5 separate regions of the Homo sapiens genome follow, and regions 2, 3, 4 and 5 are each linked to region 1. The links come from fine-mapping of genetic effects on gene expression. A gene starts in region 1. Each other region holds a variant in brackets. All regions are shown on one strand. Distances are between the middles of the regions.

Region 1 (6,511 bases):
TTTGTGTTTTTAGTAGAGACAGGGTTTCACCACGTTAGCCAGGATGGTCTCAATCTCCTGACCTCGTGATCTGCCCGCCTCGGCCTCCCAAAGGGCTGGGATTACAGGCGTGAGCCACCGCGCCCGGCCTCATTCTTTTTATTATTGATTTGTTAAGAGTCCTTTATAGACAAATCCTTTGTCTTTTGTGTATTGCGAATAGTTTTCCCCTTATTCTGTTATCTTTTAACTTTGTTTTCAGTTTTTTTCAAGTTATTCCATCTCTCTGATTTTTTAAATTCTTTTTTCTGATTTATTTTTTAAAACAAAGTTCTTGATTATAAAAGTAATACAAACACCGTAAGAAATTAATACAAAAGTACAAAGAAGAAACCACCCCATCTTATCACTGAGAGAAAACAACATAATCAATTACATATTTCCCTGTAGTCTTTTGCGTGTGCAGTTTTTTTTCACAGTTGTGATCACATTCATTTGTGTGTGTCTCTATATTTGTTTTTCTCTCAGTACCATAGTGTTTAGACACAAACCCTGGCCTTTTTTCGTTTCTTCTTTTTTTTTTTTTTTGGAGATGGAGTCTCCCTCTGTCGCCCAGGCTGGAGTTCAGTGGCGTGATCTTGGCTCACTGCAACCTCCGCCTTCCGGGTTCAAGCGATTCTCCTGCCTCAGCCTCCCGAGTAGCTGGGACTACAGGTGCGTGCCACCATGCCCAGCTAATTTTTGTATTTTTAGTAGAGATGGGGTTTCGCCATGTTGGTCAGGCTGGTCTTGAACTCCTGACCTCAAATGATCCACCTGCCTTGGCTTCCCAAAGTGATGGGATTACAGGTGTGAGCTACCACGCCCCGCCACCCTGGCCTTTTTTCAAATGCACTTGGTTTAAAGATTGTGTTATGCCAGCTTCCAACCCCTATTCCTCTTTTCCATATATCCTGAGAAATTTAGAAGGTGAGGGGCCCAAGGTCTATCCTTAGCTGACCTGAAGCGAAGTTGGCTGAGAAGCACAAGAAGGGGTAGAAGTGCTCTGGCGGAGCACTTATTAAAAAGACGCGGAGGTTTTGGTTGACTGCAAGCCCAATATGAGTCAACAGTATGGGTGCCAAGAACTTTATCGCAGGAGTGCAAAGCGATAGGTCCCAAAAGGAGGAAGCTATAGTCCTGCTTTGCTCTGATGATACCACAAACATTTGGTTCAGTCTTGGGTGATGTATTCTAAAGAAATCACAGTCAAATCTACCATTTGCGTGAGAGGGATAAAGACCCTCAAAACCAGGGCAGAGGAGGAACAATGGAAGGAACGGGAGACACTGATGTGGAATGAGAAGACCTTGGGCAGAGGTGATAGAAGTAAAGTATCTGAAAAGTCAAAGGTCCAGGAGAGATTAGACGTTTGTTCTCTGTGGCTCCAAGGCATCGAATTTCGGCCCTGAGAGTGGAAGTTTAGACACATTTTCTCACTGGTGAGAGCTGCTCGGACCAAGGAATTCAGTCCTCTGGAAATAGCTAGCTGCTTTTGCGGAGTCTTCCTGCTGAGTTGCTGGTGGTGGGGTGAACATTTATTGAGTGCTTACTGTGTGCCAGGATCCTGCTGAGGGCCTCACCTATATTGTGTGATTTCATCCCGTCAACACCCTTTGATGTGGGGACTGTTGTTCCCTATCCTGGTGCTACAAATGTGGGCACCAGGTATAGGAGGTCAGGTACCTCGCCCGAGGTTACAGTTTGTAAGTGGTGGTACTGGGACTGGAACTCGTTCTGACAAACTTCAAAGCTGGTGTTTTTAGCCATCAAGGGGATTCGAGGGTGCCATGGGGGTGTGGACGCATGAGGGGCCTTGAGGTCCATTAGACCAAAACATTCTGTGACTGGGAAAAAGGATGCCCTCTCCTCCCAAGGAAAAGCTTCTTCTGAATGAGACACAGTGGAGAGGTTAGCCCAGGGCCAGGCTGAGGGGCGCAGGCAGAATGCCAAGGGATGGAGACCCTCAGAAGGGCAAAGCCGGTGTTCCATCGTTTGAAGATCTCCAGACCCGCGGGACAGACAGACGCAGCGCGGTCAGGGAGCGTCGGCTTCGCCGAACTCTGCGGCGGAGCTGGGGGACGGAACAGCGCGCCGGTCCCTGGCCGGGCGCGAGCAGAGGGGCGGCGCGGGGCGGTGCCGGGCGGCGGGGGCGGGGAGGGCGCGCGTTGAGGCGGCTGCGGCAGTTGCGCGCTGGGATTGTTGCGGTGCGCTGGAGCCGGTGAGTGCGGCGGGCCCCGTGGGCGGGCGGGGAAGGAGCGGGCGAACGGGGAGCTAGGTGGGGAGGTGCGCGGCCGAACACGCGACCCCAGGGTAGCGGCCGCCGCCTGCCCCCGCCCCCGGCCCCCAGGGACCATGGCCCCAAGGCCCCTCTCCTTAGGCCGAGTCCCCGCCAGCGCGCTCGCGGACGCCGCACGCCTCCCAACTCCCTCGGTGCGGCCCCCGCCCCACGGCAGCCCCTTCCTCCGCGCCGCCGCGACGCCTCCGGCCCACGTCACGCTCGCGCCATTGTTTCCCAGCCGCCGGCTCGCTGGGACCCCGCCTCAGCCTCCCAGCGCGGCCGTTCGCCGCGTTCCGCCCTCTTCCCCCCTTTCCTCACGCTGGTGGTAGCCCTTTCCTCAGTCCTGCTGACGTCCTCCAGCTGATTCCAGGCTGTTCCCGGCCACCCCTGAGGCCGTCTTTTCGCTTCTTGTAAAAGCCTCCCCGCCCCCAGAGCTCCTCGGTCGCCTCCCGAGAAGCCAAGGGGCCTCTGGTGGAGCGCCAGGTTGACAGCGTTTTAGCAGGACCGCGAGAAACGGCCAGCTCGTTTGCCACACGCCCGTGTGCAACACTTCCTGGAAAGGTCACAGCGAATTGCAAGCCGCCACAAAAAACATCCGGACAGCTCCTGGTCAGGGGGCTGAGCCGTTCAGTGGCGGCCTATTCTTCTCCTTTTTTCGGGGCTCCTGAAATCGGAGAGGGCGAGATGCCGATCTGAGGCCTGAACCCTTAGTTTAAGAAAAACGTTTTGGGGGTTTGACTCCGGCAGGCCACAGCTTCTAAAAGCAGCAGGTAGAGGCTGCTGTCCGAATCGACGTTTTCCTGGGCTTTCACCTTTAGGGCCTTGATGTTTGAGGGGGGTCGTGCTCTGAAGTACAGCGCCCCGAAATGACTAGTCACCATTACAGGGGGGTGTGTGCGCGCCCGTCCAGGGGCCGATGAGTTCTTCAGGATTGAGCTGTACTTGGTTCCCAGTGTCTGTAGACTATTCATTTCGCCTCTTCAAGCAACGAATGCAAACTACTGACCATAATGTGAAAGGGAGAATATTGAAACTGTGTCATTTACCATGAAAACTTAGTGTTATTGCGTAGAGAAGGCTTTAGGTTTCAAAAATATTTACCACATGGCTTTTCAACAACGGTTAGAATTTATCCAGATGAAGACATCCAGGCCTGAAAGGGTGAAGTTCGAAAAGAGAAAAAAAATAGGTGTGAGCTGAGAGTGGAAAAAAAAAAAAGAACAAAAAAGGTTAAGTTCAAGAAAACATAGCTGGTTAGTAATTAAAATAAAAACTCCACATGCAGGGTTGATACTAGCATACACAGACTTATTTCTGAAGTGCATTTCCATTGCAGTGTAAACCACTACATTTCAACAGTATAGGTAGCTGCATTACTCTCATTGACCCAGAATTAAGGTTTTAGGATTTAGTAACCAACAAATCTGTAAAATAAGGTGGAGGGGCGCGGGGTGGAGTGGGGGGGGTTCTGAAGGAGATGTTATGCAAGATTCCTTTCAGTTCAAAGGTTTGATGCCATTGTATGAAAATTTACCATCAGCTACAAGTTTTCAGAAGTTTGTAATTGTAAGAAGATTTATATAGATAGTATTCCCTTATAGTACCTGCCACCCTTAACCAGAAGACATCACATCTTCCTAAAGAAAGCCAGATTACAATAGAATGTTAGGCACAGAGGTGCTCATTAATCTTTCTCTAGGCTATTTCTCCTGTTTTATGGGGAAAGAGGAGTACATAAAACACAGGTTTTTTTTTTTAAGTATTTCCTCTCTCTCTCTTTTTTTTTTTTTTTTGAGACGGAGCTTTGCTCTTGTTGGCCAGGCTGGAGTGCAATGGCATGATCTTGGCTCATTGCAACCTCCACCTCCCGGGTTCAAGCAGTTCTCCTGCCTCGGCCTCCCGAGTAGCTGGGATTACAGGCATGCGCCACCACGCCTGGCTAATTTTGTAGAGACGGGGTTTCTCCAAGTTGGTCAGGCTGGTCTCGAACTCCTGACCTCAGGTGATCTGCCCGCCTCGGCCTCCCAAGTACTGGGATTACAGGCTTGAGCCACTGCGTCCGACCCTGTTGCTTAATTCTCTTACCAAAAGCTTAATTCAGTGAAATAGTAAATAACAACAAATCCCCAAAAACAAAAACCCACAACTTTGTCATGTTATGACTGTGCTCTTTTAAAGTACTTACATAGACTGGTTTTTATCTAGTACACTTGCTGTGTACATATTATTTGGGATTTTGCTCTTACCAATATTTCTGGGATGTCCATGTATTTAGAGAATTCATCTAATCTTCATTAGTAGATGCTCTCTAATGTGCCCCGGTAGTCAACAATGCCTGGCACACAGGCTCTTAGTAAATTTTTGTTGAATAAGTGTTGTAATGTTTTGAGGTTTTTAGACATTTAACACAAAATACTAACTATCACAAGGCATATGTTGAGTGACGTGAGCAGTAAAGGCAGTCATACTTTCAGCCAGGAGACATTGCATTTATTTAAGGGCCCGGATTTTGTAGTCTGGCTTGCTACTTAACATCATGCAACCTCGGGGAACTCAGTTAACCTTAGACAAGCTCACTCAGTTTCTCTCACCTTGAGAAGGGAAAAATAGAACAAATTTTACAGAGTTATGTGGATTAAATAGAATAATTCAGTTGAAGTGATACTGGCACACATTAAGTTCTCTATAAATGTTAGTTTTTTTTGCTCAGAGTGAAGGAATATTAATGTAGCTTGGTGGGATCAGGAAAAACAGTAACACTTCAGAGTAGGGAGAAGATGCTGAAGTGGATGTATTGAGGGTATGATTAATAGATTGTTCTCACTAAAAGGGTTTGGTAGAGCAGTAGTCTGAGATAAAACTGGAAAGAGAAATTCTGGTAAGCAGTTTACAAGTATGCTACATGGATTCTTTGCAATTAGAGCGGAGTGAATGACCACCTGAGGTCAGGAGTTTGAGACCAGCCTGGCCAACATGGTGAAACCCCATCTCTACTAAAAATACAAAAATTAATCAGGCGTGGTAGCGCATGCCTGTAATCCCAGCTACTTGGGAGGCTGAGGCAGGAGAATCGCTTGAACCCAGGAGGCGGAGGTTGCAGTGAGCTGAGATTGCGCCACGCACTCCAGCCTGGGTGACAAGAGTGAAACTCTGTCTCAAAAAAAAAAAAAAAAAAAAAGAAAGCCACAAAATTAATGCGGCAAACCGGCCAGGTGCGGTGGCTCACGCCTGTAATCCCAGCACTTTGGGAGGTCGAGGCAGGTGGATCACCTGAGGTCAGGAGTTCGAGACCAGCCTGGCCAACATGGTGAAACCCCGTCTCTACTAAAAATATAAAAAATTAGCTGGGCGTGATGGCGCCCACCTGTAGTCCCAGCTACTCAGGAGGCTGAGACACGAGAATCGCTTGAACCTGGGAGGCAGAGGTTGCAGTGAGCCTATATCGTGCCACTGCACTCCAGCTTGGGCGACAGAGCATCTCAAAAAAAAAAAATTCAGTAAACAGTAAAAGAAAAAAGTTAAAAAAATTATGACAGTCTTAATCTTTGTTTTTTTTTTCGTTTTTTTTTTTGAGATGGAGTCTCGCTCTGTCGCCAGGCTGTAGTGCAGTGGTGCGATCTCGGCTCACTGCAGCCTCCGCTTCCTGGGTTCAAGCGATTCTCCTGCCTCAGCCTACCGAGTAGCTAGGACTAAAGGCGTGTGCCACCACGCCCAGCTAATTTTTGTATTTTTAGTAGAGATGGGGTTTCACCATGTTGGCCAGGATGGTCTCAATCTCTTTACCTCATGATCCGTCCGCCTTGGCCTCCCAAAGTGCTGCGATTACAGGCGTGAGCTACCACGCCCGGCCCTTAATTTTAATTGTTAAAATTTGATAAAGAAGGTGGGTAGTAGACATATCAAATGATCATTATATTATTTTCTGTGTGTTTGAAATATTTCACAGTATTTTAAGATGAACCTAAAATAAAACATTAAAGAAACTCCATTAAACTAATGAGCCTATAAAAATATATATCCCACTGGGCATCTGTAATGAAAACATGCTAATACTCAGCAAGCTTACTGATTTTTTTTTTTAAGCCGTTAAATTTCAGGCATCAGATTTCAGTCTTCTCTTTCCAAGCACATAGTACAAGCAGGCTCTTTCATCCCACACTCTTTTTTTTTTTCCGAGACGGAGTCTCACTTTGTTGCCCAGGCTGGCTCGAT
Region 2 (6,511 bases), 310 kb after region 1:
TATTCAGATAAACATCATAAAGCAGAATACATGAATAAATAAGTAGAACATAAATAAAATTCCAAAATACTCAATGGGAAATGACTAGTAATATAGGCTTTCAAGAGTTGGTACTTTTTAGCTATATTTGCAGATACTCTGGGATTTTAAGGAACTGAGAAAGCAGCAAAGTTGACTAAATTTTATATTTCTTGTCCTCTAAATATTTTGATAATTTCTGGATTGATGCAGTGATGTTTTTGTTCCTTCTGTATTTATAAATGAAACACCTTTTTTTAGTGTTTCTAAACCTAAAATCTACTTGGTTTGAAGTCAAGTGGTTGGAACACTGTTTGACTTTTATTTGAAGCATGTTGTTGATTGAAAATTTCATTGAGGAAGTTTTCAATCAGTGTGATCAGTTTGATTCTGTAATGAGCACAGCACCTAATATTTTGAGGAGCTCTGTTTTGAGGACCAATGCTTAACGTGGACTTCGTTCATAAACAATATCCAATAGATTTGTTGACTTGAGGTCTGGTTTTTTTGTTGCTTTTTTTCCTAATAGAATTAAGAATTCTAATGTTGAAATTCTAATGTTGAAAAACTGCCCAAATTTGTATGGGACAAAGCCTAGAAAAGAGAAATGTAGATTGCATCATAATCTAAATCATGGTATGATAGGAAAGGGAAAGTTTTGGTGCCATAATCTCTCCTTTCACTGGTGTTGGACTTAAATCAGTTAAAATGTATTTCTGTACCACAATTTATGCTTCAATAAAAGTTTGTCTAGTGACATTCAGAAAAAAAAATAAAAAACAATAATAATAGAGCCAGAATTTGAACCCAGGTATCTGATTCCAAAGCCTGAACTTTTCCATTTTGAGAAAACAAATCTTACTATGCACAGGGCAGTAAAAATGCCAATTAGTGCCATCATCCAACATTAAAATTTCTTAATTCCTTGACACAATTAAACAATTGAAATACTATTGTACATACTCCTACTCTTTTCCATCCTACTTCTCTATAGCCCTATTAATCCAATGTCTGAATGAGGCTTCTTGTAAAAAGTTTTCTTAGGTGTGTAATGGTATTGTGATTATGCAGAGGGATATTACATTCCTATGGGACGCATGCTGAAATATTTAAGGGTAAAATGTCATAATATCTGCAACTTATTTTCAATGGCTCAGCAAATAAATATATATATATATATACACATATAAACACACAAACATGGAAAAATGTTCTCAATTGCTGAAATATAGGTAATGCCTATGTGGGTATTCATTGTACTATTAACTTTTCTGTATTCAAAAACTTCTTTTTTTTTTTTTTTTTTTGAGATGGAGTCTCACTCTGTTGCCCAGGCTGGAGTGCAATGGCATGATCTCAGCTCACCTCAACCTCCACCTCCCGGGTTCATGCAATTCTCCTGCCTCAGCCTCCAGAGTAGTTGGGATTACAGGCACCCACCACCACGCCCGGCTAATTTTTGTATTTTTATTAGTAGAGATGGGTTTTCGCCATGTTCGTCAGGCTGGTCTCGAACTCCTGACCTCAGGTAATCTGCCTGCCTCAGCCTCCCAAAGTGCTAGGATTACAGGTGTGAGCCACCGCACCTGGCCAAAAACATTTTTATAATAAATATTGAGGGCTGGGCACGGTGGTTCACGCCTGTAATCCCAGCACTTTGGGAGGCTGAGGTGGGCACATCACTTGAGCCCAGGAGTTCAAGACCAGTCTGGGCAACATGGCAAAACCCCATCTCTACAAAAAATACAAATATTAGCCAGGTGTGGTGATGAGTCTGTAGTCCTAGCTACTCAGAAGCCTGAGGTGGGAGGATCGCTTGAGCCCAGGAGGTCAGGCTGCAGTGAACTATGATTGTGCTACTGCACTCCAGCCTGGGTGACAGAGCGAGACCCTGTCAATAAATAAATAAGTATTGGGGAAAAAATGCTTTTTTACTCCACTTGAAACACACACATACATTTAAACACACACACAAACAAACCAACACCAGAAAAATGGGAGGCAATGCAAAGTCAAGAAAAGATAGCTGGAGCAAGGGCAAGAGCAGAAAGAATACCAGAAGTCATGGAAATTGTTTTATTTACCTTAAATGTAAAATTGGCATCAAACATTAGTTCTTTTTCATGTCCTGTAATTCCTCCATTGTAAATAACTTGGCATCTCTTGGTTGGTCCTGTCTTAGAGTGTTTGAAGAGGCGAAATGTTGCAGAAACAAAACGACAGTCACCTAAAAATAGAATTTATTCACGGTTCATCTCCAGCACTCCCCCAGTTGTTGCCTTGCTCAGCAGACAAGGAGCAAACACGTTATAAAGATGATTTTCTTCCTTGCATGTCATCAGTTATCTTTCTGAGCACTTCACTCTATTTACTGAATGACTTCAAAGTGCTTTATTAAATATCAAAATTTTTGGGGGGTTACCATTGTACAGGAGGCAAGATAGCTATTTCCAGATAACAGAAAGTATCCCTCAATGAGACTCCTTCAGAAGTTACTTACTAATCACCACATTTCAATCATTCAAGCTGTAGTTATAATAGTCCCTGCTGTCTGTCATATCTTACCGATAACTCTTTCCAGTTCCTTGTTTTGAATTGTAATGAGATTGGCAGTGACCAAACGTGGAGGGCAGAACCCAATTTTTTGAGCAAGGACAGCAAGTTCCTTCCAGTATAAAGCACCACCCAGACACTCACCTAAAAAACAAACAACAACAAAAAACCACAGACCAGCCAACACTTAATACAGTATTAAGGGAACTATTCTTCTATATAATTAATTAGGACATGGTATTAGTTAAAACATAGATCCTAGCAGTAGAAGCTAACTTGAGCATCCCTCCAAGGTCTAGAAAGCCATGGTTAAGACTGGGTGTGCTAGCTGATGGTCTCTAGGAACCATTCTTCAGGACACTCACTGGTGGATTGGTTCTACTCAGCTGCAAGCATAATATTCATGTATGCAGTACGCCACATTCTGAAAAGCACTGTTATGTGAATAAAGTAGTATAAAAAATAAATCATAGGCCGAGCGCGGTGGCTCATGCCTGTAATCCCAGCACTTTGGGAGGCCGAGGTGGGCAGATCATGAGGTCAGGTGTTGGAGACCAGCCTGGCCAACACAGTGAAACCCCATCTCTACTAAAAATACAAAAATTAGCTGGGCATGGTGGCATGCACCTGTAATCCCAGCTACTTGGGAGGCTGAGGCAGGAGAATCACTTGAACCCGGGAAGTGGAGGTTGCAGTGAGCCAAGATTGCGCCACTGCACTCTAGCCTGGGTGACAGAGCGAGACTCCATCTCAAAAAAAAAAAAAAAAAAAAAAGAAGTTATCACTGGGTTATATGATTATAAGTAATTTTTTTAAGAGATAGGGTTTTACTATGACACCCAGGCTGTACCTGAACTCCTAGGCTCAAGCAATCCTCCTGACTCAGCCTCCCAAATATCTGGGGTTACAGGTGTGTGCCACTGTGTCCAGCTTAGTAATTTTTTCTTTTTTTTTTTTTTTTT[TG/G]GCACTTTCCAACTTGTTAACGGTACCTATTTATTATTACATAGTAAGAATAAAGTTAATATTATTTTAAGAATAAGAACTTTTGATTTCATAGACTGATGAAAAGCATGCATTTATCTCAACTTCCAGACTATTAAAATGATAATAAAGGAATAAAGAACACAATAATGATGAGAACATAAGGGGACTAAGAGGACACCAGCTTGGGAACAATTGTCCTCATTTCCACACTAGAGTTTTCAAAGTATTTTTCCCATTCTTTATCCCATTTAATCTTCATAACAGCCCTATAAGGCAGATTGTATTATTATTTACATTTTACAATTTGGAAAACGATAACTCAAAGAGATGAATTAAACTATCCAAAGCCCTATCACTTTTGAATGGCAGAGGAAGAATGGAACCTTGGCCTCATGGCCTAACCCCATGTGATCTCATATAGCCTCATCCTGGCTATTAGCAGAAAGGAGTTCTGCACATGTACAACCATCTGCCTTAATACTAAACTAAACAAAATCACCTACCCCATAAAACTTTGTGTGTCCTGATTTCTTCTGGCAGTTCAAGGCTCGTATAGACGTCACTGAAATATAACTCCCCACCATGCTGAAACAGAGGCATATTAGTCCAAACAAGATGATTAATGATTACATTGACCCCACATAACAAAGAAAGGAATAGGGGAACAAAATCAAATTTAAAAATCAATAGCAATGTTTAAGCTGACCCTTTGTGAACAAATAGCAGCTGCCTCTTTAGTTACAATCAATAGTCAAGTGCCAAGGTTTTTTTTCCTCCCAGTGGCTTATCCAACAGGTAATAAAATCACATTCTAAGAGTGTCTGTCTCCTAAATAAAGATTTTCAGGTTACTTACATTTAAATTTTTAGCCAATCTGAACCAAAAGCAGCCCCAGGTCATTGTAGAACAGAGGATATCATCAGTATTCATAATCTTTTATCTCTTAAGAATAGTATAACTTTGCCAGGTATGATGGCTCAGGCCTCTAATCCCAATGACTCAGGAGGCCGAAGTGGGAGGCTTGCTGGAGGAGAGCAGTTTGAGACTAGCCTTGGCAACACAGCAAGACCCTCTCTCCCATATAGAAATTTAAAAACTAGCTGGGCATGGTGGCATGTGCCTGGAGTCCTAGCTACTCAAGAGGATTGTTTGAGCCCAGGAGTTAGAGGGTACAGTGAGTGTCACTATCTGGACCCCTCTAACTCAGGAGTTAGAGGGGTACAGATAGTGACACTGCATTCCAGCCTGGGTGACAGCAAGACCCCATTTCTATTAAAAAATATAACTTTTTGTAATGTTGTTATTTACTTTTATAACAACACATTTTATCTTTAAAATATTATCCTTAAAATGTAAGGCAAATGAGTGATCAGGAACTTAACATTTTATTTAGCTAATTTCAAAAACCTGGAAACCTGGAGATCTAGATTCTATAATAGTGTTTCTACCTTTTATAAGTACATTTTTGGTGGAGATAGTGAACTGGCGTGTAAAATGACATACTAACAAAGACATCACTAAATCATTAAATCATTTCTATATAGATATTTGTATTTGAGTTCTATGACAGCTTTGTAAACCAAAAATCTCAAAAATCTGTTGTCAATTTAAAAAAAAATTTTGGCCAGGCACAGCGGCTCATGCCTGTAATCCCAGCACTTTGGGAGGCTGAGGCAGATCATGAGATCAGGAGTTCAAGATCAGCCTGACCAATATGGTGAAATCTTGTCTCTACTAAAAGTACAAAAATTAGCTGGGCATGGTGGCACACGCCTGTAGTCCCAGCTACTAGGGAGGCTGAGGCAAAAGAATTGTTTGAACCCAGGAGGCGGAGGTTGCAGTGAGATGAAATCCTGCCACTGCACTACAGCCTGGACAGCAGAGTGAGACTCCATCTCAAAAAAAAAAACATTTTTTTAGAGGCAGTGATCACACTATATTGCCCAAGCTGCACACAAACTCCAGAGCTCAAGCAATCCTCTTGCCTCAGCATCCAAGTAGCTGGGAGTACAGGCATGTACCACCCACCCAGCTAGAATCTTTTTTTTTTTTTTTTTTTTTTGAGATGGAGTCTCGCTCTGTCTCCCAGGCTGGAGTGCAGTGGCACGATCCTGGCTCACTGCAACCTCTGACTTCTGGGTTCAAGCTATTCTCCTACCTCAGCCTCCCGAGGAGCTGGGATTACAGGCACGCACCACCACACCCAGCTAATTTTTGTATTTTTAGTAGAGACAGAGTTTCTCCATGTTGGCCAAGCTGGTCTCAAACTCCTGACCTCAGGTGATCTGCCCGCCTCGGCCTCCCACAGCACTGGGATTACAGGTGTGAGCTACCGCACCTGGCTGAATATTTCATCTACTATCATGAAGATACACATCTCATGATACAATGAAGGCTGTGGAGCTCCTGCAAGCTTTCCTTTTAGCAAGTAGTTAATGTAAAAGTTCCATCTTCTGTAACTTCCCAAAGATCTGAAATCATGACAGATAAGAAATCAGAAGCCCTGAGAAACACTGTACATGCTAGAAGAGAGTATATTCAAAGCAATCATTAGTAGTCAGTGCAAAGATTCCTATAGCTCCACAGATGCTCTTCTAGGATCATGTACAGCAGCAAATAGGAGAGACAGTCAAGAAAGCAAATACCTTAACACATTCAGTGACAACTGTCACCTCGGATTTACTACCTTTTGCAACCTAAGAGGGAAAGTAATCCATATCCGGGGTATTCCTGCCCCTTCCCCCTTTTGCCACCCCTTATTCATTTAATGGATAAATTAAGAGAGTTTGAGCTCTTAGTTCAAGGGGGAACAAACAAGACTTAACCCATCAGCTCTTACTGATGTTCAAAGATAATTTATCTCACTCTCCTCCTCACCTTCAGCACCCGATATGCCTCCTGAAGCACTTGTTGTTTATCAGGCACAAGGTTAATAACACAGTTTGATCTAAAAGAG
Region 3 (6,511 bases), 210 kb after region 1:
CAAGGCTGCAGTAATTTTTGTATTTTTAGTAGAGACAGGGTTTCACCATGTTGGCCAGGATGATCTCAATCTCCTGACCTTGTGATCTGCCCGACTTGGCCTCCCAAAGTGCTGGGATTACAGGTGTGAGCCACCACGCCCGACCTAAAAAATTTATATATATAAATATATATATAAAATATATATAAAAATATAAATATTTTAAAGACAGCTAGGCTGCTTTGATATTGTCCATTTAAGACCTAAAATTCCATAGTTATATAATATATAGCATATATTTTACTCCTTAATTATCAAAAAAGCAAAACACAAAAAAACTTGTCATTAATAAGAAATATAATATTTAGATCACACCTGAGCAAGGTCTTTTTTCAATCCTGGGAGGAAATTTCTAGTTCTATCACAATTTCCTGTCCTAACAATTAAAATCAATATCAAAGTTGAACAAACAATAAGCCACAAAATATGGGTCTCCTTTCAAATTATGAAAAGGCTGGAATTATTAAGTAGAACTAAACACCATAGAGTGGATGAAGTAAACTCATGTTTAAGGAATAGTTTTTAATATTCAGTTCTGTTCACTTGTCAGCTTTCTGTAACTTAGATTAGTTTAATTAATGTTAATTTTCCATACATTCCAAGATTTAGACTGTAATATAAGTTTATTGAATGCAGCACCAATGACAAAACTGTATTGCAACTCCATCACTAATTAGTTTAAAAATGTATTCTTCAACCACTCCTCTGAAATAACAATGAGTATCGTCATCCAATTCAGAACAACAAACATTCACATAAACAAGTAGGAACAGTCTTGTTTCCAGTTGCTTACAAGTTCCAGAGTCAAATTAATACACTCATGAAAACAATTACTTATATCGGAAAGCCCTAAAGCCACAAAGAACTAACTACCCATCAAAGCTTTACAGTCTTGATTACACAGGGGAATGCAGCTAGGCCGAGCAAACAGCCCAAAGCTGGGCCAGCTTCTCTCTCCTGCAAATTAGTAATGGTCTATGTTTTTCCTCTTCTCTGCCAAATCCTTGAAGAAGGAACACACTTCAAATACAAAAAGAGCCAATAAAAAGAACCCTAAAAATACCTTCTATTCCTGAGATCTAATCATTTCATTCATTTGTCTGACAAATATTTATTATGTACTCACTACTGCAGGCCCCAGGCTAACCCTATGCTGGACTGGGTTGCTGTCTTCAGTGGAGCTTAAGGTCTAGAGAGACAGACCAATATGAATCAAATAATATAGCCAGTGTGATAATTATGAAATAACAATAACCAAGTGCTAATAGTGAGATTTAAAGGAGAATCTTACCTAATATAAAAAGGCAAAGAACACCTCCTTGAGAAAGTGACGACTGTTTAGTCGTCTGAAGGATACTAAATATCTTAAATTTTTTCTCTGCACATTTGCATGGATAATTTTTCTGGTCACCAAATGACTATAGTTCCAAAATAGGATATTTCTGAATATGTAGTGGATATACTTCAAATGTAAGAAAAGCACTTATGCATTCCATTTGCCCTCCACTGTTACCATGAGAAAAGCACACCTTGGCTAGACCACTGGTCCTCCAAGAAAGATGAAACAAATGAAGAAGAGGCAGTCACCCTAGTCATTCCAACCAAGGCCATCCTAGATCAGCTAATAGCTGGCCAACCCTCGAGATCAGCAGAGCCTCCCAGCCAACTATCCTAGACATATGGCCAATAAACACTTACTATTATGTGCAACTGAGGTCTCTCAGTGATCTGAGATATAGTATTATGGCAATAGATAACTGATACACAAGATCAAAAAAAAAATTACCATCCCTGGTCAGGCGTGGTGGTGTATCCCTATAATCCCAGCACGTTGGGAGGCCAAGGCAGGCAAATCGCTTGAGCTCAGGAGTTCAAAACCAGCCTGGGCAACATGGCGAACCTTGACTTAAAAAAAAAAAATACCAAAGTTAGCCGGGTGTGGTGGCATGCACCTGTGGGTCCCAGCTACTCGGGAGGCTGAGGTGGGAGGATCACTTTTCTCTAGGAACTACTGGAGGATATGTTCTCCCAAGATAAGTGAGTAAACCAACAAAGATCCTGATGTGGGGATCCAGAGGTAAAAAATTTAATATAGGAAAAAAGAGGAAGGGAATTATTTGTTTTGGGGTTTTTTTTTGAGACTGGTCTCGCTCTGTCACCCAAGCTGAAGTACACTGGCATGATCACAGCTCACTGCAGCCTCAACCTCCCGGACTCAGGTGATCCTCCCATCTCAGCCTCTCAAGTAGCTGGAACCACAGGCACACGCCATCACACCTGGCTAATTTTTAAATTTTTTTTTGTAGAGATAGGGTTATGCCATGTTGCCCAGAATGGTCTGAAGTCCTGGACTCAAGCGATCACCTGTTTCAGCCTCCCAAAGTGCTGGGATTACAGGTGCGAGCCACCACACCTGGTGATGAAGGGAATTCTTAATTTGTGAAGGTAAGATTCAGGGCAACAGCAGTACAGAGCCAGCACAGGTTGGCAGTTCTAGGAGATGTGCTTCCGAAACAAGCTAAAGAACTGATGCATAACCTGATGTATTTACTTTAGAATTCCAGCAAAGTGTATGTGGATAAGCTGGTGATGTGAAGAAAAGTAAGCAAAGAAAAAGAGATTTATGAAGGATTCCAGGGAAGAAAAAAAAGCATGTGATCGCAATATGTTGATTGTATCATATGAACAATCTTTATGTAGTCATAATAATGTAAACACTGAACACATTGGTTTAAGATGAAAAGTTAGGGAACATTTCTCTAAGGAAGTGACATCTAAAGCACATCTTAAATCTGATAATTATAACAACAGGATAGAGGAAGAAAAGTATGAATGTGTGGTGTGGGGAGAGGGGAAATACAGAAAAGGAAAGTCCTTATCTTTCAGCGTAAGAGCCAACAAAGAAGATCTAAAACTGGGTTGGGCATGGCACCTCACACCTATAATCCCACCACTCTGGAGCCCAAGGCGGGCAGATCACTTGAGCCCAGGAGTTCGAGACCAGCTTGGATAACATGGCGAGACCCTGTCTC[T/C]ACAAAAGATACAAAAATTAGCCAGGTGTAGTGGTATGCGCCTGTAGTCCAGCTACTCAGGAGGCTAAGGTGGGAGGATCACCTAAGCCAGGAAGTTGAGGCTGCAGTGAGCTATGAAAAAAAAAAAAACCCACTAAAACTGAAATAAAATAGATAGCAATTTAACTAAAAGTTTAGAAATATCAAGTTTAATGGTATGAGAAAGAGATGAGGCTGGACGCAGTGGCTCACACCTGTAATCCCAGCACTCTGGGAGGCCGAGGTGGGCAGATCACTTGAGGTCAGGAGTTCTGAGACCAGCCTGGCCAACATGGCGTCTGAGACCAGCCTGCCAACATGGCGAAACACTTGTCTCTACTAAAAAATACAAAACTTAGCTGGGCTTGGTGGCACGTGCCTGTAATCCCAGCTACTTGGGAGGTTGAGGCAGGAGAATGGCTTGAACCCAGGAGGCAGAGATTGCAGTGAGCCGAGATCACCCCGCCGCACTCCAGGCTGGGTGATCCAGCAAGAATATGTCTCAAAAAAAAAAATAAAAAGAAAAGAAAGAGATGGAAGAGAACAAAGTAGTTAACTTTGGAGAGTAGGAATTAGAATGAGATAAGGAGTTGCTATTTTAAGCCCTGTGTCTTTTTCAGCTATGTTTTAATAAAAATTAAAATTAAGTAATTTTTATCAATTTTTAACCTCATTTGTCTTATTCTCCCCAAATTCTATTTTCATCCATTATGTCTATTACAACTATTTGTTTTATGTATTCATTTACTCACTCAACTATTTATTGGGCAACTATTAATGTCTACTGTTCTAGAGGATAATGGATACAACAATTAACAAAAAAACAAAGTCCCTGGTGGGTGGCGGGGAGACAAATGTTACACATATTAAACATAGACATGCTCAGTAGTAAGTAGTACGAGGAAAAATAATGCAAAATAAAGGGACAGAGATGAAAAGAATAGGCTATTTTACATATGTTAGTGACCTGTGAGCAGACATCTGAATTTAAGCAGGTAACATAGCTAGGTGGTATAACAAATGAGGTAGTGGGGGCAGCTAGCACAAAGGCCTGAAGATACGTGTGCTTAGCATGTTCAAAGAGAAGTAGGAAGACAAGTGATATGCCACTGTAAGAATTTCAGCTATTATTGAGTGAGTTGATAAACCACTGACAAGCTTTCAAACAACAAATAATAGGATTTAACAAATATTTTAAAAGATCACTCGCTGGGGTACAACCATTTTGGAAAATTATTTGGTAATACAAAGCCCGAACCCACACATACCTCATGAACCACAGATCCTACTCCTAGGTATATACCCAACATAAACACATACATATATTTGCCAAAAGACTCGTACTAGAATGTCCAAGCAGCATGATTCAAAATAGCCTAAAGCCGGGAACTATCTGAATGCCCATTAGCAGAATGGAAGAATGGATAAATAAATCGTGGTATATTAACACAATGTGATAGCACACAGCAATGAGAAGAAACCATTTACAATTTCATAAAACATCATGGATGATTCACACACACATAAGGCTGCATAAAAGAAGCCAGACTCAATACAGTACATATTGTACGATTCCATTTATTATAGATAAAGTACAAAAACAACAAAACTGACCTATGTTCTACAAGTCAAGGTGATGATTACCCTTGGGACAGGGACTGGAAGGCAGCATGAGTTGCTGGTCACATTCCGTTTCTTGCTCTGGGCGCTGGTCACACACAGGTATGACCAGTTTGCGAAAATTCACTGCAAACTCATAACATGTGCATTTTTGTGTGTGCTTATAAACATCAGTAAAGTTTTTTGTTTGAAAGATCACTGACTGCTGTGTGGAAAATAATTATAAGGAGGCAAAGATAAAACAGCAAGGAGACCAGCAAGGAGGCTAATGGTACAGCCATAATATGCTATAAAATGACAGGGGCTTGGGTGGTAGAGGTAGAGATGGTATGGAGTGGCCACATTCTGGAAATATTCTGAAGCTAGAGTCAGTAAGATTTCCTAACAGATTACACCTAAGGTTAAGAGAATCGAAGTCATAAAGGATAACATTCAGATTTTACCCTGACAACTGGAAAGACAGGACGGCCATTAATTAAAATAAGGATGATGGCAGCAAGTATAGATTTGCAGAGGGCGGGGAGAAGAGGAAAAAAAAAATCGAGTCCAGTTTTGAAAATCGTATGTTTGAGATGGCTCTAAGTGGAGCTTAAAAAAAAAAAAAAAAGTCCAGGCATGGTGGCTTACGTCCGTCATCCCAGCACTTTGGGAGGCCGAGGCGGGTGGATCACGAGGTCAGGAGTTTGAGACCAGCCTGGCCAACATGGTGAAACGCTGTCTCTACTAAAAATACAAAAAGTTAGCCAGGCGTGGTGGTGCATGCCTGTAATCCCAGCTACTTGGGAAGCTGAGGCAGGAGAATCGCTTGAACCCAGGAGGTGGAGGTTGTGGTGAGCAGAGATCACACCATTGCACTCCAGCCTGGGCAACAGAGCAAGACTCTGTCTCGACGACAACAACAACAAAATAGGTCCCAGGAGGAACTCAAAGACCAAGGAATGGTCTGGAGATTCTGTCTAACAGCATCATTCATCATTCCTCCTGTTCACCTACTTTCCTCACTTCCTCTTTTAAAAACAAAAAAAAGTAGACAGAGTCTCGCTCTTGGCTTACTGCAACCTCCGCCTCCAGAGTTCAAGTGATTCTCCTGCCTCAGCCACCCCAGTAGCTGGGACTACAGGTTTGTGCCACCACACTCGGCTAATTTTTGCATTTTTAGTAGAGACAGAATTTCATTATGTTGGTCAGGCTGGTCTTGAACTCCTGACCTCAGGTGATCCACCCACCTTGGCCTCCCAAAGTGCTGGGATTATAGGCATGAGCCACTGCGCCCAGCCAATAACACAATTTTTAAAAATTTTTTCACAAGGAAACTTAAGGATCCTTAGAGTATGTCCTCAAATCATAAGGGAACTACAATTTGAGAAACAAACTATTCCCAGTTGAAATACAGGTTGAGTATCCCAAATCCAAAATCTGAAATACTCCAAAATCCAAAACTTTTTGAGCACTGACATGATGCTCAGAAGAAATGTTCACTGGAGCATTTCAGATTTTGGATTTTTGGATTTCAGATGCTCAGCCAGTAAACATAATGCAAATATACCAAAACCTTTAAAAAAAAATCCAAAATGCTTGTTCCCAAACATACATACAAGGAATACGCAACCTGTACAAACATCCATGAGAGTAAATAATAAGAGCTTGTCACAATTGGGCCATCAGATGCTTTCCACTCTGCAGTCAGATGGGAATAGCTCTTTAGGACAATCAGTTTTACAGATGTTAATGTCTTTTCTAAAACTCTTTTTATTATGGGAAGAATAATACTGTGAGCCTCCCTGTACCCAATACCCAACTTG
Region 4 (6,511 bases), 250 kb after region 1:
GGCCACAGCGGGGATATCTGAGTACAGATCTGAAGGAAGGAGGGAGCAAGCTGCAAAGCTATCTGGCGAAAGGACATTCCAGGGAGAAGGAGCAGCAACAACACAGGCTCCAAGGCAGGGGCATGCCTAGAGTACCTGTGGCACTCAGGAAACAGCCAGAGGTCACTGTAGCTGCTGGAGGAGTAGGAGATGCAGCCAAAGAAGGGGCCATATCCCATGGGACCTTGCCAGTTGTATATGATCATTTTTTTTTATGCTGGCTATTTTGACTTGTTAAAAGACAATATCAACTGGGCACAGTGGCTCACGCCTGTAATCCCAGCACTTTGGTAGGCCAAGGCGGGCAGATCACTTGAGCCCAGTTGTTTAAGACCAGCCTGGGCAACATAGCGAGACCCCATCTCTACTACGTAATTTTTTATAAAATAAAAAATAAAATAAAGACAATATCATATTACTGTAATTATAAGAGGTTTTTAACAAACTGGTAAGATGAAAGTTATGTTTAAGGAAGATCAGCCTGGCAGAGGTATGCTTGATGAAACAGACAATAAAGAAAGCCATCTTGGAAGTTTAATGATAATCAAAATAGACTGATTCATGCATTAATTTAAAATGTATTTCTAGGCTGGGCGCAATGGCTCACACATTCTGTATCACCCAGATACAGAATGGAAAAGAGTACAAATTCATATGTAATCCCAACCCTTTGGGAGGCCAAGGCAGGTGGATCACTTGAGGTCAGGAGTTTGTGACCAGCCTGGACAACATAGTGTGAAACCCCATCTCTACTAAAAATATAAAAATTTGGCCAGGCGTGATGGCAGGCACCTGTAATCCCAACTACCTGGGAGGCTGAGGCAGGAAAATCACTTGAACCCTGGAGGTGGAGGTTTCAGTGAGCCAAGATAGTGCCACTGCACTCCAGCCTGGGTGACAGAACGAGACTCCATCTCAAAAAAATAATAATAAAATAAGGACCAGGCGCGGTGGCTCACACCTGTAATCCCAGCACTTTAGGAGGCCAAGGAGGGCGGATCACGAGGTCAGGAGATCAAGACCATCCTGGCTAACACGGTGAAACCCTGTCTCTACTAAAAATACAAAAAATTAGCCAGGCATGGTGGCAGGCACCTGTAGTCCCAGCTACTTGGGAGGCTGAGACAGGAGAATGGTGTGAACCCGGGAGGCGGAGCTTGCAGTGAGCCGAGATTGCGCCAGTGCACTCCAGCCTGGGTGACAGAGTGAGACTCCATCTCAAAAAATAAATAAATAAAATAAAATAAAACAAAATGTATTTCTGGAGCACCCAAAACATAATAAGCACAAATAAGAGGGGCTAAGGGCTGGCACTGTAGCAGTGGGAATGGAGAGAAAACAAAAAGTAAAAGATGCGTTTTCAAAACAGATCAATTATGTTTGATAACAATATACAGAGGGGAGGCCAGGCGCAGTGGCTCACACCTGTAATCCCAACACCTTGGAAGGCCAAGGCAGGCAGATCACTTGAGGTCAGGAGTTTGAGACCAGCCTGGCCAACATGGTAAAACCCCACATCTACTAAAAATAAAAATTTTTAAAAAAGAAGATACAGAATGGAAAAGAGTATAAATTCATATGTACTTCAAGTTACCTGAGAGCAGGAAATCTGTCTAATTCCTCTTTGGCCGTCTCCTACATGGCGGTTTTTTTTTTGTTGTTGTTGTTGTTGTTGTTTGTTTGTTTTTTGAGATGGAGACTCACCCTGTCGCCCAGGCTGGAGTGCAGTGGCGCGATCTCAGATCACTGCAGCCTCCACCTCCCGGATTCAAGCGATTCTCCTGCCTCAGCCTCCCGAGTAGCTGGGATTACAGGTGTGCGCCACGCCCAGCTGATTTTTGTATTTTTAGTAGAGACGGTGTTTCACCATGTTGGTCATGCTGATCTTGAACTCCTGACCTCAGGTGATTCGTCCATACCAAAGTGCTGGGATTACAGGCGTGAGCCACTGCGCCTGGCCGCCAGTTCTTTATTATGATGCTAAATACATGCTTATGGATTAAAGATGAGTCAAAGAAAGTCTTCTCAAGATGGAAAAAGAACATGGAAGGAGACATAAGGACAAAATCTTGGGGACTGCTCAATTAGAAATGGAAGGGAAAATCAAGAACCTAAAAAGAAAAAGGAAGCAGTCAGAGAAACAGCAGGAGCCAACCTGAAGAGTGGTCCTCACCTACAGCTAAAAACAGTAAAGGGGCCAAGCAAGAGAGGAAAGGTAACAACCAAGATGTAGATGTGGCAATAAAAGAAGTCATGGGTTGTAACTGTTTGAAACAAGATTGTAGAGGATTAAAGATGGCAAGGAAAAGGAAGTAACTAGCTATTCTTGAAGAAATCTTGCAGTAAAAAGAGAAAGGAAAAATAGACAGCTAATGATCCCCTAAGACATAGAACTCTGCCAGAAATTAGCCTCTGATCCTGCACTGAAGCTAAGTAAGCCTTAAGGAAATATTTACAACCTTCAACCTGGCTGGGATCCTCAAACAACTAGGCAGGTTGAATGAATACAGGAAAGATCCTACCTACACCATGTCTGAAAAAGGCAACAAATCTTCGAATTTGCTACTCATACCTGGTTTGGTAAGTGGCTTTGGGAGGTCACAGATAAAGTAATAACTGCTGACTTTTTGGATATTTAGGTAATGTGAGATAAATCAGCTTAAATCAACTAAGGGCCTTTGTCTGCTTGTTTATTTTAGTCTCCATAACTCCTATTAGAGGCTCTCCTCAAATATTCAGAGATCTATCGCTGTCCATTCATATTTCAGAGGAAAGCATTAAAATGCTGGCTGGAAGTTCTGTGTCAACTGATGATCTTCACTCTACAGTAATCAGGTCAAAACGCTGGTATATTTTTAATATCAAGGAACTCAGTAAAAATTAAATTTAACTGTCTAATAGGCATAGGACTATTTAAGAGCAATGCCATCTGTAAGTAAAGGAAACATCGATTTCTCTCCCTAAAATGTTTAATTTTTTTAGAAAGTTGGCTAAAGGAGTAGAGGCGTTGTCTTTTTTTTTTTTTTTTTTTTTTTTTGAGACAGGGTCTCACTCTGTCACCCAGGCAGGAGTGCAGTGGCGCAATCCCATCTAACTGCAGCCTCTACTTCCCAGGCTCAAGCAATCCCCCTACTTCAGCCTCCTGAGTAGCCAGCATGACAGGTGTGTGCCACCATGCTCAGCTAATTTTTTCTTTTTTTTTTTCCATTTTTTGAGACAGAGCGTTGCTCTGTCACCCAGGCTGGAGTGCAGTGGCACAATCTTGGCTCACTGCAAGCGCCGCCTCCTGGGTTCAAGCAATTCCCCTGCCTCAGCCTCTCGAGTAGCTGGGATTACAGGTGCCCACCACCATGCCCAGCTAATTTTTGTATTTTTTTTTTTTTAGAAGAGATGGGGTTTCACCATGTTGGCCAGGCTGGTCTCGAACTCCTGATCTTGAGCAATCCACCTGCCTCGGCCTCCCAGAGTGCTGGGATTACAGGTACGTGCCACCGCACCCGGCCTAATTTTTTAATTTTTTTGTAGAGATGAGGTCTCACTATGTTGCCCAGGCTGGTCTCAAACTCCTGGGCTCAAGCCATCCTCCCAACTGGGCCTCCCAAAGTGCTTGGATTATAGGCGTGAGTCACTGC[G/A]CCCCACACATTGTCATTATTTTATGTCATTTTAACAGACTTTAGTAAAGGCACCTAAATGATAGCTAACTTATCCTATAGTTAAATTAAACGTTTCTGGGGTTGGGTGCAGTGGCTCATGCCTATACTCCCAACACTTTGGGAAGCCAAGGTGGGAGGATTGTTTGAGCCCAATAGTTTGAGACCAGCCTGGGCAACATAGGGAGAGCCTGTCTCTACCAAAAAAAGAAAAAAAAAAGGTTTCTGTATACATCCAGAAAAAGAACGAAAGAAAATCACATCTGTTTATCTGTCTGAGAATATGTACGTTTTAGGAGTATAATCAAACCAAATATTTGATCTTGTCTTGATCAAAGCTAAAAGGTCTTTTTATTTTAGCAAAATGTGTAAGATATACATTTTGTAGGCTTAATAGTCTGGAAACTATTAACTGAGCTTCAAGCACAGGTGGTTCAGAACACTCCTTTTATCTTTTTGTCTCCTTTTAATAATCAAGACTAGATTTACAGTGATTATTTATTTAGACAAAAGGAAGCACCAGTTTCCAAAACCATCATGTCCCCAAATAAGAGGTATCTTGGGATTATAGCTTTATGTTAAAAGTACAGATCTAGTTGGAACTCAACTACTTAACAAAACATTTTTTTTTTTTTGAGATGGGGTCTCGCTATTTTGCCCAGGCTGGGCTTGAACTTGCTATCTTCCTACCTCAGCCTCAAGAGTAGCTGGGATCATGGGGCACATGCCACCCTGCTGGCTTTCACCAAACTTTTATTTAATCAGGGCTATCATGTAAGTATAAAAAAGTTTCATTCCAGGCAGACTACATACAAATCTAAACAAACTGGATTTTTGTCACCTATTAACATGTTTTGAAAACAAATGTAACCCAAAAGCCTAAATTCCCTTATTTCTCACACAAAATGAATCTTACTAAGATGTCACGTGTGTACTCACACACATTACGGGCTTTAAAATACTACTCATCTTTCACCCCAAACAGTAAGAATCACAATGAGGAGGAAAAAATGGCATAAATGACAGCACAGCTGCACTATAGATAAAATATTCCACATTCTCCAAGAAAAAATACCTGTGAGTTTCATCTAAATACATTTCAATTCTGTACCTCAATGAGTGGTTCAGGTTACAAAACTTGCACTTTATTTTGATGGATTTGGTTTCCCCCAAACATTACAAAATACATGCTTTAAACAGAAAAACTTGGAGCAACACAGAAAAACATACTTCCTCCCCTAAACCCACCACATCAAAAGATAGTCACTGTTGGTTAATATTTTGGTAAATGTTCTTCTAGTTGTTGCAGGTTAATGTATGTATATATGAACAAGCAAATAAAAACATAAAAGAGCAAAACTAAGCAGAAGATGGTCCACAAAATATGATTAAAAGAGTATTTTAGCCAATTGACTTGTTTCCAGCAGAATCTCACCCCTCTCCACACCCAATCTCCCCCACCCCCATTGCACCAAAAAAAAAAAAAAAAGCAAAGAGTTTCATTTTGTCTCTTCTGTTTACCTGGAACCCCAAACCCTCAAGGATCAGACTGATGATAGCAAGATGAAAAGCAATGACTAAAAGGTAGGGTTTTTTCTCTGCTTAGTTATCAACTCTACAGAGATGAAATTATTCCTGCCAAACCTTACATCAAGGAGGTACACTAGTGACTAAAGGAAATAATCTTGAAAGAGATAAGAAAGCATGCTATCTTGTTCTAGTTGTTTTTAGTTTTAATTTTACCTCTGAAGACCTGCTCAAATATTTCCATCTCTTGAATGATTCTGAGGACTGTCTAAACCCAAACGCCACTCCGCAGAGGCTCCGAGTTGAGTCAGCACATTGTTTCTATGATTGCAGATGGGCAAATGGAAAAACTGAGGCTTTGCACACTCCCATAAAGATCAGATGATGCCCTCAATCTGTCTTTGCTAGCATGGGAAAACATTCTCCCTCTCAGATTACCAGCCCCCTACCCCCACAGCACCAAAAAAAAAACCAAAAAAACAAACAAAAAAAAACACCATAGAGTTTCATTTTGTCTCTTCTGGTCACCTGGAACCCAAAAACCTCAAGGATTATAGTGCTAGGCCGGGCGTGGCATTTCATATCGTAATCCCAACACTTTAGGAGTCCAAGGTGGAAGGACTGCTTGAGGCCAGGAGTTAAAGACCAGCCTGGGCAACATAGCGACACTTTGCCTTCTACAAAAAAAAAAAAAAAAAAAAAAAAGCCAGGTGCAGTGGAGTGTGCCTGTGATCACAGCTATTTGGCAGGCTGAGGCGGGAGGATCACTTGAGCGCTGCTAGTCAACCAGGGCTGCAGTGAGCTGTGATTGTGTCACTGCACTCCATCCTGGGCAATAGAGCAAGACCCTGTCTCAAAAAAAAAAAAAAAAAAATTTTTTTTTAAAGGACCATACTGCTCATAGCAGTAAGAAATGCAGAGTAACAGAAGTCAGGGTTTCTTCTAGTCTTTGCAAATAAAACCAAAGAAGACCCTTGATAAATTGATGTGGAGAAGAAAGATACTACAAAAGTTTTTTTTGAGATGAGGTCTCCTCTGTTGCTCAGACTGGATTGCAGAGGTGTGATCACAGCTCACTGTAGCCTTGACCTCCTGGCTCAAGTGATCCTCCCACCTCAACCCCCCAAGTAGCTAAGACCACAGGTGTGCACCACCACACCCATTTTCTTTTTATTTTCTGTAGAGGCAGGGTCTCCCAATATTGTCTAGGCTGGTCTTGAATTCCTGGACTCAAGCAATCCTCCCACCTCCCAAAGTTAGCGCTAGGATTACAGGCCACCATGTCTGGCCCAAAG
Region 5 (6,511 bases), 350 kb after region 1:
TCTGACACTACTGCCCAATTAGGCTTTGATGCTCTCACCGTGGAACAAGTAACAAAGGTGTGTATGAGAGCTTGGGATAAATTACGCGCCCCAGGCCAAGCTCCTGTTTCTTTTACTACTGTTAAACAGGGTCACAATGAATTATATCCTGATTTTTTAGCTAAATTACAAGATGCTGTTGAAAAATCTGTCTCTGATGAGCACGCTCAAGGTATTCTTCTTCGAATGTTAGCTTTTGAGAATGCGAACCATGAGTGTAAAATGGCCATGCATTCCGTCCAACAACAAAATTTACCTGATCGTGAGGTGTTGCCTGAGTATATTAAATATGAAGGCATTGGATCAGACACAAAGCTATTCTGTGCCCACAAAGCTATTCTGTGGGCACGGGCCATGAAGGACGGCAATCAAACTGGCTCGACTGATTCTTTTCTTGGAGCCTGCTATAATTGTGGTCAACTTGGTCATACTCGAAAAAATTGCACAGTTAAAAACTTAAAGGCAGCCAAGCCGGCTCAAAAAACACAGCCAAATGCTCCTGCTACTGTTTGCCCTTGTTGTTGTAAAGGTAAACATTGGGCAAGTACTTGCCACTCTAAGTCTGATATAGATGGAAATCCCTTGCCACAGAACCAGGGAAATGGGAAATGGGGCCAGTCCTAGGCCCCAATTTCAAATGGGACACCTCAGACTCAGACGAATGTTGCCTTTCTGCTTCAATCGGTCCCAACGCAGCCCCCAGCACAAACAAATTTACCTACAGCCAACCCAGATGTGTCCCAGCCTCTTCTTCTGTCTCAGTACAACGCTTATCTATGCTCCAGAGTAAGGGGAGGGGCGGTCAATCTCTGTAGTACCATTCCTCTAAATTTACTACCTAATTCTTTGCCTTTAATTCCCAGACCAATACCTGGAAACCTGGAACGATTATAACATGGGGAAGAGGGTATGCTTGTGTTTCACCAGGAGATCATCAATCCCCTGTCTGGGTGCCCACTAGAAGACTTAAACTTCATGTGAATACTGACAATAAAAACCACAGGGAAGAGACGTCCACGTCAGAGACCACCCTCATACCTGGTGAGATCTGTGCCAACTCCTCAGAAACTGGCACGCCAAATCAAAATGGGTCTGGTTCAATCCTCCCTAATGGCAACAGAAACCCCTCTAACTAATCCCACTTCTCCTAATTCCCTTTCTTTTTCTCCTTACGAACCTAAAAATCTCACCATTTCTATTAGCCTGAAAATAACATCCCCTTATTCTTCTATTCCTCCTTCAGCACTGGATCTTGCTTACAATAGGTTTTATTTAATAATTCTCTTCCTTATACTTTCTGTCTCACCAGTTTCCCCTCACATTGATTTACCTGCTACACAAAATTATTCTTGCTGGGCTTATGTGCCTTTTCCTCCACTTATTCAACCTCTCACCTGGATGGATGCTCCTGCGGAAATCTATACTAATGATAGTGTGTGGATGCCTGGAGCTACAGATGACCGTTGCCCCACTCAACCAGGAAAAGAAGGCACTGCATTTAATGTTCCTACGGTTATAAATACCCTCCTCTGTGCCTCGGACATGCACCTTGTTGTATCCATCTAGAAACTCAAGTCTGGGCTGCGTACCTTCTGGAGAGATCAGCCACAGGGGAACGGGGACATTTGGTCTCCAGCCTCTCCCTTTCTCCTTTAAGACAAATGAAAGGGGGAGTAATAGGAGATACCCCCTACTTTCAATATAAACCTGTAGGAAAACCATGTCCTAAAATTTTTGAGGGCCCATCTAAATCTTTAATTTGGGAAGATTGTGTTAATTCACATGCAGTACTATTAAAAAATGACTCATATGGTTTAGTAAGAGACTGGGCACCAAAGGGCTATTTGAAAAGCAGTTGCTCTTCTGCTGGAAGGGAATGCCTGGAGGCTACTTGTTTTATTTCTTATTGGGAGGACGAGGATCATCATCCTACTTTGCATAGGAGGTTCAGCTCATTCTGTCCCTTAAAATGGGAAGATAAGAGCATTACCCCCTGCCACCCGAGGCCTCTTATGATATCCCCCATTCTGAGCCCAGAACACCCAGAACTTTGGAAATTGGCTATTGCCATGTCCAGACTGCGAGTATGGGAAGGGGAAACTTTTCTTTCTGTTGTCCCCACTACCACCCCTCACATCCGTGATTCTGAAACCCATGATAAATCCCCTTTGGACCATTTTCCTCTTTTTGATGCCAGTCCTCCTTTATGGGACTCTGATTGGCATTATGATAATTCTTCTGGACCCAGGTATGTCCCCCTACCTCTTCAGAATCCCCGGGCACCTCGGATTGCTTCTTTACGGCATCAAACATTGGGCGTTGCCACCGCCACTCCTCCCCCTCGGTATCAACGTAGATTCAAACATTCTGCTTTGTTTACCTCCAGCCTGACTATTATACAGAGTTGTGTTAAGCCTCCTTACATGCTGTTAGTGGGAAATATCAAAATTTGGATGAACAATCAAACCGTCCAATGCATTAATTGTCATTTATCCACTTGTGTTAACTCCCGTTTTGACTCAGGAAAAGTGTAATGTTGGTTCGAGCTTGAGAAGGAATCTGGATACCAGTAACTTTACCCAGAACTTGGGAATCTTCCCCCTCAGTACATTTAATTAATGAAGTGTTACAACGAATTCTCAAAAGATCAAGAGATTTGTTTTCACTTTAATCACTGTGATCATGGGCCTAATTACAGTCACTGCACTGGCCACCACTGCCGGAGTGGCATTACACCAATCTATTCAAATGGCTAATTTTGTTAATGATTGGTAAGGCAATTCCACCCAAATGTGGAATCCTCAACAAGGCATTGATCAAAAATTAGCTAATGATTTAAGACAGTCTGTTATTTGGCTTGGGGACCAGCTAATGAGTCTCGAACATCACATGCAAATGCAGTTCGATTGCAACACTTCTGATTTCTATAGCACACCATATTCCTACAACGAGACTGATCATGGGAAATGGTCAAAGGACACCTTCTGGGTAGGGAAGATAATTTATCCTTGGACATAACTAAATTAAAGAAACAAATTTTTGAAGCCTCTCAAGCTCATTTATCCATTGTGCCTGGAGCTGAGGCGTTAGATCAGGTGGCAGAAAGTCTTTCTGGACTAAACTCCACAACTTGGATTAAGTCTACTGGGGGCTCCACTGTAGGAAATTTTGGAATCATGTTTCTCTGTTTAATCGGCTTGTTTTTAGTGTGCCAGACCAGTCAAAGAATCCTGCATCAAAACCGAGAGAACGAGCAAGCCTTCATCGCCACGGCACATTTATATAAAAAGAAAGGGAGAGATGTTGCGGGAAGTCAGGGACCCTGAATGGAGGGACTGGCTGGAGCCATGGCAGAGGAACATAAATTGTGAAGATTTCATTTTAATATGGACATTTATCAGTTCCCAAATAATACTTTTATAATTTCTTATGCCTGTCTTTACTTTAATCTCTTAATCCTGTTATCTTTGTAAGCTGAGGATGTTTGTCACTTCAGGACCACTGTGATAATTGTGTTAACTGTACAAATTGATTGTAAGACATGTGTTTGAACAATATGAAATTAGTGCACCTTGAAAAAGAACAGAATAAGAGCAATTTTTAGGGAACAAGGGAAAACAACCATAAGGTCTGACTGCCTGCAGGGTCGGGCAGAAAGAGCCATATTTTCCTTCTTGAGAGAGGCTATAAATGGACATGCAAGTAGGGAAGATATCACTAAATTCTTTTCCTAGCAAGGAGTATTATTATTAATACCCTGGGAAAGGAATGCATTCCTGGGGGGAGGTCTATAAACAGCCGCTCTGGGAATGTCTATCTTGTGCAGTTGAGATAAGGACTGAGATACGCCCTGGTCTCCTGCAGTACCCTCAGGCTTACTAGGGTGGGGAAAAACTCCGCCCTGGTAAATTTGTGGTCAGACCGGTTCTCTGCTGTCGAACCCTGTTTGCTGTTGTTTAAGGTGTTTATCAAGACAGTATGTGCACCGCTGAACATAGACCCTCATCTGTAGTTCTGCTTTTGCCCTTTGCCTTGTGATCTTTGTTGGACCCTTATCAGTGGTTCTGCTTTTGCCCTTTGCCTTGTGATCTTTGTTGGACCCTTATCGGTAGTTCTGCTTTTGCCCTTTGTCCTTTCCCTCAGAAGCATGTGATCTTTGTTAGACACTTATTAGTAGTTCTGCTTTTCGCCCTTTGAAGCATGTGATCTTTGTACCTACTCCCTGTTCTTACACCCCCTCCCCTTTTTGAAACCCTTAATAAAAACTTGCTGGTTTGAGGCTCAGGTGGGTATCACAGTCCTACCGATATGTGATGCCACCCCCGGCGGCCCAGCTGTAAAATTCCTCTCTTTATACTGTCTCTCTTTATTTCTCAGCCGGCTGACACTTATAGAAAGAACCTACGTTGAAATATTGGGGGTGGGTTCCCCCAGTACGCTAGTCCTGCT[G/A]ATGAGCAAAGAAGGTGTTGATGGCATTTTGATCAACAAGAAATGTTATGAAACGGCCTCCCACCTCTGGCATTCCTAGTACTGACCTATCTCTCCCTTCCCTTCCACCGCTCCCCACAGCTTAGCACCCCTTTCGTTCCCATACACATGTACATTTTTATTTTGGGGACCATTAACCCACAGCCCTTATCGCTGCCAAAACCACATGGGCTGGAGGGCCAGGGCTGCATGGACAGTCACACCACTGCACACCAGCCTGGTGATGGAGCAAGACTCTGAAAAAAAAAAAAAGAAGCATAAAAGACCTTTAACAGTCCCTGCTACTTGTGACCCTCCTGAATCTGTCATCTGTCCAGTGATTTTGATTTTGCAACATGGAAAGTTCCAAGCCTTGACTCCTGAGCCCAGATACCATTCGCACTCTGGAGTCATTCAAGCATGGGGAGCTCCTCAGAGGGTGATCAACTGACCTCCCTTACCTAGCTCCTCCTCCGGAGGTTTGCCCTGGAGTTGAGCCAGCCCTTGAGGAGGCCTTCACTCCCACCGCCTCTCTCCCTTCTGGATATGAGCTCAGGCCTGGCTGGGCTCCAGGAGAATCTTTCCACAAGGCAAGAGATAACACAAAGTCAAGGTGAAGATCAGGGTAGCCCTTTAAAAGGCCTCCTTGTGCCCTAGAGTTGCCACAGCTCTTCTACTCCACTGCTGTCTATCTTGCCTGCCGGCACCCAGCCACCATGTGGGAGCTCGTGGCTCTCTTGCTGCTTACCCTAGCTTATTTGTTTTGGCCCAAGAGAAGGTGCCCTGGTGCCAAGTACCCCAAGAGCCTCCTGTCCCTGCCCCTGGTGGGCAGCCTGCCATTCCTCCCCAGACACGGCCATATGCATAACAACTTCTTCAAGCTGCAGAAAAAATATGGCCCCATCTATTCGGTTCGTATGGGCACCAAGACTACAGTGATTGTCGGCCACCACCAGCTGGCCAAGGAGGTGCTTATTAAGAAGGGCAAGGACTTCTCTGGGCGGCCTCAAATGGTAAGTGGTGCCCATCTCCTCCCTGCCCCCTTCACCACCCCCTGGGATTGTTCAGGTCTTCAGACCATGCCTAGAATGGGGCTTCCAGCTCCAACAACCTGTAATTCTTCCCAAAGTAGACTAGTGGGATGATGTGAAGGGAGTGAACCTTCAGACCCCCACCCAGCCTCTAAATTAGGCAGGAAGAATTAAAGGAATGTCTCCTCTACCAGGCTGCCCAGGAGGTGGGATGGGAGGACCACAGTGGTCTGAGGGGTCAAGGAATCCTCACTCCACTCCTCTCTCTGAGCCTAGACTTCTCTAATGGACTGAGAAGGTGCATGTACAGCACTTAGCCTAGCACCCAGCACAGTAAGTGCCCCTTATACAGCCAGGATTCATGTTACTTTTCATGGAAAATGGGGGCAGTGACTACTGTCCTCCATGAAAGCTGCTGGGGAGAATTAGCCTAGCTATTGCAGGCTGGGATTGCTGCTTTCCTGGTGCTATTTCCAGCTACTCAGGCTCACAGGGGCAGTTTTCTACAATGACATTTCAGGGTTGCTGATGAGCCTCCCACTCAGCAGGGCCCCCAGCCTCTCAGCATTTTTTTTTTTTTTTTTTTTTTTTGAGACAGAGTCTCTCTCTGTCGCCCAGCCTGGAGTGCAGTGGCCAATCTCAGCTCACTGCAACCTCTGCCTCCCGGGTTCAAGTGATTCTCCTGCCTCAGCCTCCTGAGTACCTGGGACTACAGGAGCATGCCACCATGCCCGCTAATTTTTTGTATTTTTAGTAGAGATGGTGTTTCACCATGTTAGCCAGGATGGTCTCGATCTCCTGACCTCGTGATCCTCCCACCTTAGCCTCCCAAAGTGCTAGGATTATAGGCGTAAGCCACTGTGCCCTGCCAGCCTCTCAGCTTTGATCAAGCCAAGGGTTGGTTTATTTTTTCTTGGACCAATCAGCCAGGTCTGCTGACCAACTACCTAGCTCCCACCTCTGCTGGCTTCCTC

Which allele goes with the higher level. Alleles are on the strand shown, and positions count from the first base shown. SD is a standard deviation of normalised expression in the study named. Not every link is listed here.
With allele G in place of A in region 4, the expression in testis of the gene that starts at base 2,203 in region 1 is lower (moderate effect, 0.58 SD a copy in GTEx).

The links. PIP is the estimated chance that this variant, and not a neighbour inherited with it, causes the effect.
Region 2: its variant is fine-mapped to the expression of NT5C2 in naive CD4 T cells (Schmiedel 2018, PIP 0.94).
Region 3: its variant is fine-mapped to the expression of NT5C2 in blood mononuclear cells (TOPMed, PIP above 0.99).
Region 4: its variant is fine-mapped to the expression of NT5C2 in testis (GTEx, PIP above 0.99).
Region 5: its variant is fine-mapped to the expression of NT5C2 in whole blood (TOPMed, PIP above 0.99).

What each region holds. Positions count from the first base shown.
Region 1 is chr10:103,188,964-103,195,474 of GRCh38, reverse strand. NT5C2 (5'-nucleotidase, cytosolic II) reads left to right here and starts at 2,203. Exons shown (of 19, transcript NM_001351169.2): 1 at 2,203-2,239. RefSeq lists a silencer at 2,109-2,388 and enhancers at 2,087-2,773, 2,774-3,462.
Region 2 is chr10:102,874,583-102,881,093 of GRCh38, reverse strand. It overlaps AS3MT (arsenite methyltransferase), which reads right to left. Exons shown (of 11, transcript NM_020682.4): 6 at 6,433-6,502; 7 at 4,059-4,140; 8 at 2,584-2,715; 9 at 2,103-2,245. BORCS7-ASMT (BORCS7-ASMT readthrough (NMD candidate)) reads right to left here. Exons shown (of 15, transcript NR_037644.1): 10 at 6,433-6,502; 11 at 4,059-4,140; 12 at 2,584-2,715; 13 at 2,103-2,245. Among named protein-coding and RNA genes, the nearest start is that of AS3MT, 8.4 kb to the right of the region's middle. The variant TG/G (reference allele first, on the strand shown) is at 3,534.
Region 3 is chr10:102,977,014-102,983,524 of GRCh38, reverse strand. All of the region lies in intron 1 of CNNM2 (cyclin and CBS domain divalent metal cation transport mediator 2), which reads right to left. Among named protein-coding and RNA genes, the nearest start is that of CNNM2, 62 kb to the right of the region's middle. The variant T/C (reference allele first, on the strand shown) is at 3,072.
Region 4 is chr10:102,935,185-102,941,695 of GRCh38, reverse strand. The region is part of intron 1 of CNNM2 (cyclin and CBS domain divalent metal cation transport mediator 2); the gene reads right to left. Among named protein-coding and RNA genes, the nearest start is that of CNNM2, 20 kb to the right of the region's middle. The variant G/A (reference allele first, on the strand shown) is at 3,672.
Region 5 is chr10:102,836,073-102,842,583 of GRCh38, reverse strand. CYP17A1 (cytochrome P450 family 17 subfamily A member 1) reads left to right here and starts at 5,171. Exons shown (of 8, transcript NM_000102.4): 1 at 5,171-5,519. The coding sequence starts at 5,223. RefSeq lists a promoter at 4,932-5,211. The variant G/A (reference allele first, on the strand shown) is at 4,489.